Linked DNA regions of Homo sapiens: all the other regions are linked to region 2. The links come from fine-mapping of genetic effects on gene expression. A gene starts in region 2. Each other region holds a variant in brackets. All regions are shown on one strand. Distances are from middle to middle. Region 1 overlaps CDKL4 (cyclin dependent kinase like 4). Region 2 holds the start of SOS1 (SOS Ras/Rac guanine nucleotide exchange factor 1). Region 3 overlaps SOS1 (SOS Ras/Rac guanine nucleotide exchange factor 1).

The links.
Region 1: its variant is fine-mapped to the expression of SOS1 in whole blood (TOPMed, PIP above 0.99).
Region 3: its variant is fine-mapped to the expression of SOS1 in monocytes after interferon gamma (Fairfax 2014, PIP 0.95).

What each region holds. Positions count from the first base shown.
Region 1 is chr2:39,215,493-39,218,256 of GRCh38, reverse strand. The region is part of intron 3 of CDKL4 (cyclin dependent kinase like 4); the gene reads left to right. Among named protein-coding and RNA genes, the nearest start is that of CDKL4, 27 kb to the left of the region's middle. The variant G/C (reference allele first, on the strand shown) is at 1,163.
Region 2 is chr2:39,120,055-39,122,818 of GRCh38, reverse strand. It overlaps SOS1 (SOS Ras/Rac guanine nucleotide exchange factor 1), which reads left to right and starts at 1,768. Exons shown (of 23, transcript NM_005633.4): 1 at 1,768-2,483. The coding sequence starts at 2,397. RefSeq lists a silencer at 1,899-2,618.
Region 3 is chr2:39,052,858-39,055,621 of GRCh38, reverse strand. SOS1 (SOS Ras/Rac guanine nucleotide exchange factor 1) reads left to right here. Exons shown (of 23, transcript NM_005633.4): 5 at 799-1,008. Among named protein-coding and RNA genes, the nearest start is that of SOS1, 67 kb to the left of the region's middle. The variant G/C (reference allele first, on the strand shown) is at 1,451.

The DNA of each region.
Region 1 (2,764 bases), 95 kb before region 2:
AGTGCTGGGATTACAGGCATGAGCCACTGCACCTGGCAGAAATAATGTTTTAGCAGCTATCTGGTCATCCCTTAACCTAGTCAAGTTAACACAGAAAATTACTCATAACTAAAAGGAAGTAGAAGGAACAATAAACTGTTAATAGAAGTAGAAATAGAAGTAAACATAGAAATAGAAGTAAAATGTTATTAACAGCCTGATTGAAAGTATAAATAAGCCTTGGGGGCCAGGCGCAGTGGCTCACGCCTGTAATCCCAACACTTTGGGAGGCCGAGGCAGGCAGATCACCTGAGGTCAGGAGTTCAAGACCAGCCTGACCAACATGAAGAAACCCCATCTTTACTAAAAATACAAAGTTAGCTGAGTGTGATGGCACATGCCTGTAATCCCAGCTACTTGGGAGGCTGAGGCAGGAGAATCGCTTGAACCCAGGAGGCGGAGGTTGCGGCGAGCGGAGATTATGCCATTGCACTCCAGCCTGGGCAACAAGAGCGAAACTCTATCTCAAAAAATAAATAAATAAATAAATAAATAAATAAATAAATAAATAAATAATAAAATAAGCCTGGCATGTTCAGAGAATAGCAGAAAATAATGGGCTGGGATGGAGTGACTTTAGGGATGTGATAGGAGATAAAGTTGGGAAGGGAAATGGAAGTAAAATGTTATTAACAGCCTTGTAGGCCATAGTAACAAGGCTGGATTTTATTCTAGGATAGTAAAGATTTACTGAGAAGGACTGAATTCATCTTGGGTAATAATAATGAAATCAAGCTTCCCCTATTACGTTTTTATAACAAACTTCCAGGTAATGACTTCTGATTTCAGCATCAGGTCTTCCTCTGAGTGGTTCAAAGAGCATATTCTGAGCAGTTCAGTCTGAATTCCCCCATCATGTTACCCTATCTTGTTAGCCCATTCAGACTTGAACTGTGATGTCTCATGTTTGCTTTAAGGCCTTCATTACGACTTTTAGTATTACTTTCAGTGGCAAGAACCTCGGTTACTTTTGTACCAACCGAATATTTGGTTTTGCACTGGCCCAAAATATAATATTTAAACACTGAGCATCTTTTGATTTCACCAGAGGTTCATTTTGCTCCAAGATGCTTTGAAAAATGCTGCCTGTGGCTGAATGGTGCTGCAGCGCTCTATCTTTCTG[G/C]ACTGGGCGCCGCGTCGATGTGTACTCTCTTTGATGGTTATCTTCTCTTTGCACGATCTGTGGTGTTGGTTTGTGGTTCTCTTTGATGGCTATCTTCTCTTTGCACGATCAGTGGTGTTGTTTTGCCCCTGACGGAATCTGCCTTCTTGGAAGCTAACTGAACTGAATATGACACTTCCTGTGAGATGCCTTTAAACATCCTCTTTCATGTTAAAGTCATCTTTAACATCCTATGAAATTACTTTCCTATGAAATTACTTCATTCTCCATTCCCTGTTATTAAGGCTAGTAATTGGCGTTTTGCAGTTTCTCAATCCTAGCCCCTACCTTGTTTCCCAATTCCAGTACTTACTCTCCTGCACCTGTAGGCTCTTAGATCCCAACCAGACTAGCGTTCTGTTCCCATGTCAGCAGGAGCATGTACTCCACCCTCGCTAGTCCCTCTCAAGGACTGAAATCCATTTCCCTTCCTCTCACTGCTGCCACCATAATCTAAGTGTCCAAATCTCACTTGGGTTATTGAATTAGCCTCCTAATTTCTCTCTCTGTATGTATGTTGCCTTCCCAGAAATCCATTCTCCATATTATGTCACTTCCTTGCTTGATTTCTTTCAATGGTTTTGAATTTAGCATAAAATCCAAATTTCTTATTGAGATCTAGATCTCCGAGGCCCTCCATGGACTGATTTCTGCCAACCTTCCTGGCTTCTTCACTCAAGTTTCAGCCACCCTGGCCTCATACTGCTTTCCCCACACCTCCAGTTCTTTCTCTCCTCAGGGCCTCTTGCTATTCTGCACCTCTTCCCTCTTTGTACAGGGGTCTCAATCCCATCGACTGGCCTTATCTAATCTCAGACCTGTATCTCCAGAACTCATGTGGGTGTTAAAACCAGACATTGAGGGGATAGATTACTCAAATAACTTATAAGATATTATTCTAGTATTACACATGAGGAAAATTGAAGGTGCAGAGAGCTTAAATAACGTGTTCAAGATTATAAAGTAGGAAGCAGCATATCTGGGATTTGAACTCAAGCAACCTGTCTCACAGTGCTCAACATGGCTATACTATTCTTCCTGCCTCATATTTTGAAAGTGTACGCAATGTTGTTTCAGGTTTGGCTCTAGGTGAAGTGGGGAGAAGAATACAGTTATATCAGTATTCAGTGCTGGAAATAGACACTTCAAGTCGAAAGGGATTTAATCATGAAAATTAGGTACATTTGCAATATTAATAATTAGGAGAACTGGGGTCAAGGGTTGCCACTGGGCCACTGATGTCAAGGACATGCCACCATAATTGTGGTACAAGATCAGGAAACTGCTCTGAGGAAAATACCGTGTACATCACTTGCTGTTTCTCTGCATATACTTCAGACTCTTGTAGCTAGTGTCATAACTGAGTCATGCCTAGGCCTTCCCACTGTTCTGTAAAGTCAGCTACATCTGCACATGTTCAATTTTTAAAAAGTGATCTAAATATATGATTTAAATATCCAAATATGATAAAATATTAAATCTGAGTGATGGATATGTTTGGGGTATTACATAATATAATTTTTTTAAATTAAGAAAATCCTTACAGTTGACATTTAGTAAAAG
Region 2 (2,764 bases):
TAATCACAGCATTTTGGGAGGCCGAGGCGGGTGGATGACGAGGTCAGGAGTTCGAGACCAGCCTGGCCAATACAGTGAAACCCCATCTCTAATAAAAATACAAAAATTACCTGGGTGTGGTGGCAGGCGCCTATAATTCCAGCTTTCATTCCACACACTTTGAAAGTGGGGAGTTTTTCAAATGTAAACCAAGTATGTATATTTTTATTTTTTCAATAAAACAATAAAGATGGGTCTCGCCAGCCTGGTCTCAAACTCCTGAACTCAAATGGTCCGCCCACCTCGGCCTCCCAAAGTGCTGGGATTACAGGCGTGAGCCACTGCGCCCGGCCGGTCTGTGTGTATGTGTGTGTGTGTGTGTGTGTGTGTGTATATTTTTTTTTGAATTGAAACGGAGTTTTGGTTTTGTTGCCCAGGCTGGAGTGCAGTGGCATGATCCCGGCTCACTGCAACCTCTGCCTCCTGGGTTCAAGCGATTCTCCTGCCTCAGCCTCCCAAGTAGCTGGGATTACAGGCGCCCACCACCATGCTCGGCTAATTTTTGTATTTCTTATGGAGACAGGTTTTCACAGTGTTGGCCAGGCTAGTCTGGAACTCCTGACCTCAGGTGATCCATCCGCCTCGGCCTCCTAAAGTGCTGGGATTACAGGCATGAGCCACCTCGCCTGGCCGGCCTGTGTATTTTTAAAGGAAATAACCTAAGAGTTGTTTTTCCAGATTTTCAAAGAGGTCCTGTAAAGATTAAGAACCACTGAACCTTTCTCGTTTATGTGATCCTGGTTACTGTTCTCAGGAATAGCAGGACACAATGTCAGCTTTAACCCAGGCTAGTTCCTCTAAACTGCCTTCTTATCGGTGAAATGAAAATAATAGGGTTGCTATGGGGATTAAATGAGATGATACTCAAAAAAATGATAATTAATGATAAATCATAAGGTGTCTGCCACAAAGTGCCCCTATTATAAACAAACAGTGGCCTGGAGGGACAGTTTATAAATACTGCTCCTTTAGCATTCCACTAACATTGACTGAGTGCCTGTTCTACACTGTGTAGAGGCCCTGGTGAAAAAGATCTGCCTTCCAGTTTATTATCTAGTCGAAAGAACCGCAAAAGATAACAAAACACAATAGACTGAACGCCCTGAGAGGGGCATAAGTGCAGTGCTCTAGGAGCTGTAAAAGAGGTCTCGATATCCACTGGAGGAAAGTGCTTACTGGAGTTCATTTCTGGAGTGGGTTTAAAAGATGAACAGAGGGAATCTAAAACATTCACACAAAATCAATACTACACGTACACATTTTATTATTTTGTGGAAAGACCACTTAGAAACACCGCAATCACTTCTACTACTCAGCAGATACTGAGCAGTAGGTTTCGTGACAGAGCACCTGTCTTTTGTCCAGTCTGTTTACTATACATTGCGTGCTCTGGGCAGTCCTTATCTTCGTGTTCAGGAACAAAGTACACACACCCCTTTCCGAAACGAAGGGCCCAGGGACTCCGAGAAGGGTGGGAGCCCTCACGGCCAGGCCACACAATGGGGAGCCTCTTTACCCTAGTCATCACCCACCCTTGCAGGCCCCACTTTGCCAGGGTGCGACTTCTCGGGCCCCTTCGCCCCTCCCCTGCAGCCCCCAGGAGCGCAGCCACAGCCCGGCCGGGCGCCCTCCCTGTCTCTCTCTCTCTTTCTCTCTCGAGCTTTCCTCCTCCTTCACCGGGAGCCGGAAAACCCGGAGCGAACCAGCCCAGCACGGCAGCGCATGCTCAGTAGCGAGCAGGTTCAGTTCGCTAGTAGGAAGCTCCAGCGCTACACCGGCGGCGGCGGTGGCGGCGGCGGCCGCGGCGGCACCTCAGGGCAGCCAGATTCCCCAACAACGACCTCCGGTCCTTCCCCTTCCCCGCGAGACCTCCGCCCCAGCTCCGCCCCGCCCGGGGCTCTTGCGTTTCGGAGTCCCAACTACGCGGAGCGGGCGCCGCGGCCGGAGCGTCCCTCCACACGTCCTCCCCCAGCCGCCAGCTCCGCCGCGGGGCCAGACCGGGCCCGGGAGTGCAGCCCCGGCGGGCGGGCGGCGGCCGCGGCAGAGGGCAGCCCGGGGCGGCGCCGGCGGGCCGGGGAGGGGCGGGGGGCCTGGCCCCGGGGCGGTGGTGCGGGATGCCGCCGCCTCCGGGCCGCGTCCGTTCTCCACGGCTGGTACCTGTGTCGGGTGGGTGGCCAGGCGCGGGCCTCGCCCCCCAGCCCCCTCGCCAGGGCTAGCCCGGCTGCGCGGCGCCCGGAGGGGGCCGGGCCGTCCGGTGGGGCCGCGGCCCTGTTCCGCGCTGCGAGCTCGCCCTCTCGCGGCTCCCTGGCCCGGCCGCCGCCGCCCCTCTCCCCGCCCAGAGGCGCCCCGGGGGCACCATGCAGGCGCAGCAGCTGCCCTACGAGTTTTTCAGCGAAGAGAACGCGCCCAAGTGGCGGGGACTACTGGTGCCTGCGCTGAAAAAGGTGAGGAGCACGCGGGACCCCGCTTCCCGGCCGCAGCCCCCCAGCGCGGGCGCTGGGGAAGGGCTGGGGAGGCGGGGCGCGCGCAGGGCCGTCTTTCTTCCCGGTCTCGCCGCGTCTCCAAAAGGACGGCGCACACGGAGAGGCCCCCCTCATACGGCTGGCTCTCGGTGTTGACATCCACCGGGTGTGTGGGAATGCCGCAGGGAGCCGGGGGGAGTTTATCCGGATAATCCAACCCCTGAGAGGTGAATGCTTTGCCCTTTGATTCCAGGACAACAACA
Region 3 (2,764 bases), 67 kb after region 2:
CTTTGAGAATGTGGCCATATAGAGTGAAAAAACCCACCTGATTTGAAGAAGAATTTCAAATGTTTGGGTATTTTTAACTGAAGACACGAATACGAAATACTTGATGCTTTTTAATGAATCAGATAAATAAAATATTTTTGAGTACCTACTACATGTTTACACAGAGAGGAGATGCAAGATAAGTATATATAAAACAAGGCTCCAGAGTTGATGAAGGTATACTTATATTCATGAAACAATCAGAAAGCACACAAGATAAAATAATATTTTATTGTGTTATAGAGATATGATGCTGTAGAAGTTCTCAAGAAGGGGAAAGATGTGTTGTAGCAAGAGTAGTAACAGTAGACTTCTTGCAGAAAATAATAGCTTATTTTGACCTATTCCCAACAAATGTAGGAAAATCGGCCGAATAGACAGCTATAAACATTTAAATATGAGATACTGAGGCCATGGAATAAAGTGATGATGGCAGGGTATAAAACAGAGAAAACCAAGTCAGGGAAATTAAAGACAGGATCTGGAAACAAATTGGAAGTAATAGGTTAACAAGAGAGACAGACAGATAAATACTAGTAGTGATAGAGAACTTGGAGGAGTGTAGTAAGTTATATCACATGTTGAATTCTGTTTTAGAGAAGCTGTGGAGGGATGCTGGCAATATATCCAAGAAGAGAAATTTGTTTGTCTGCTTTTTTATCATTTAAGAACTTTATTCAGAGAACTTAGAGCATTTCACATCAAATTCTACGAAAGCTTCATATTTTATTATACTTTTTTATATCTCTGACTGTATAGGTATTGATGGATATGTTTCATCAAGATGTAGAAGATATTAATATATTATCTTTAACTGACGAAGAGCCTTCCACCTCAGGAGAACAAACTTACTATGATTTGGTAAAAGCATTTATGGCAGAAATTCGACAATATATAAGGGAACTAAATCTAATTATAAAAGTTTTTAGAGAGCCCTTTGTCTCCAATTCAAAATTGTTTTCAGCTAATGTAAGTATCATTGTATATATGCCTCTCATTGAATGTGTTGTGAAATTTGCATGACCACTTCAAATTTGAAGTTGTACAGTTCATCATTACTAATTTGTTAATTTTTTTAAGTTGTGGGACTTAATTCATGATCACAAAGTTTTACAACAGTTTCAAGAGATTTAACATTAGAAATTAAGAGACAAAATACAAAGTAGACTGATTATGTAAGTGAAAATGAATTCACAGAATTCTCCATGTACTCCAAAGGATAAAGCTTCTTGTTTAGGTGGAAGATATGTTTGTTTGAGTCATTTGAATCATTCAACCTACACTTCATCAATGCCAACTGTATTGTCAGGTACCATGCTTGGCAGCAGGGATTCAAAGATGAATAAGAAACAGTTCTGCTGGGCACGGTGGCTCACGCCTGTAATCCCAGCACTTTGGGAGGCCGAGGCGG[G/C]CAGATCACGAGGTCAGGAGATGGAGACCATCCTGGCTAACACGGTGAAACCCCATCTCTACTAAAAATACAAAAAATTAGCCGGGCGTGGTGGCGAGCGTCTGTAATCCCAGCTACTCGGGAGGCTGAGGCAGGAGAATGGCGTGAACCTGGGAGGCGGAGCTTGCAGTGAGCCGAGATCGCGCCACTGCACTCCAGCCTGGGCGACAGAGCGAGACTCCGTCTCAGAAGAAAAAAAAAAAAAGAGTTCCTTTCCTTAAGTTTAGTCTAGTCAAGACAGAGATATAAACTATAAATTGCAATAAAATATGGTAATTACCATATTAGAAGTATGACAGCAGTAGTATTGGGAGCACAAAGGAAGGGGCCAGTAACATTGAAACTTAGACAAAGGATTACTGATCTTAAGATAGTGATCAAACTAACCTAATTGGGTCCTGAAGAAATGTTGAATGAGAACAGGTGAGACGGTCACAGGAATTACACACTGGTAATTCCTGGAACTGTAGCCACACAGCCATAAATGACTGATAAGAGAAACAGTGCTCACTACAGAGGCTGGGATTGGGCTCAAGCTATGGCGATGAGTGAAAATTAAAAAATAAAGGAGATTATGGTGATGGTTGTACAAATCTGTAAATATATTAAAGACCATTAAATTACTCACTTTAAATGGACACACTGCATGGTTTCTAAATAATGTTTCAATAAGGTTGCTTTAAAAAAAGTAAAGAAGAGGCAAAGGTTTCTGAGGACACAAAAATCAAGAACCAAAATGGCCAAAAAGCACATCAAAAGGTGTTCAACATCACTAATCATTAGAGAAATGCAAATTAAAACCATGACATACTACTACATACTCATTTGAAAGGCTAAAATGTAAATGACTTATAATACCAAAAGTTGAAATGGGTATGGAGCAACTACTTGTGGGAATATAAAATTCCCACATTACCTGAGAAAGTAAACTAGTATATTTTGGAAAACAGTTTGGTGGTTCTCTCTCTTTTTTTTTTCTTGAGACGTAGTCTCGGCCTGTTGCCCAGGCTGGAGTGCAGGGCCGTGATCTTGGCTCACTGTAACCTCTGCCTCCCAGGTTCAAGCGATTCTCCTGCCTCAGCCTCCCGTGTAGCTGGGATTACAGGTGTGTGCCACCACGCCTGGCTCATTTTTGTATTTTTAGTAGAGGCGGGGTTTCACCATGTTGACCAGGCTGGTCTCGAACTCCTGACCTCAAGTGATCTGCCAGCCTTGGCCTCCCAAAATGCTGGAATTACAGGCGTGAGCCACCATGCCTGGCCAGTTTGGCAGTTC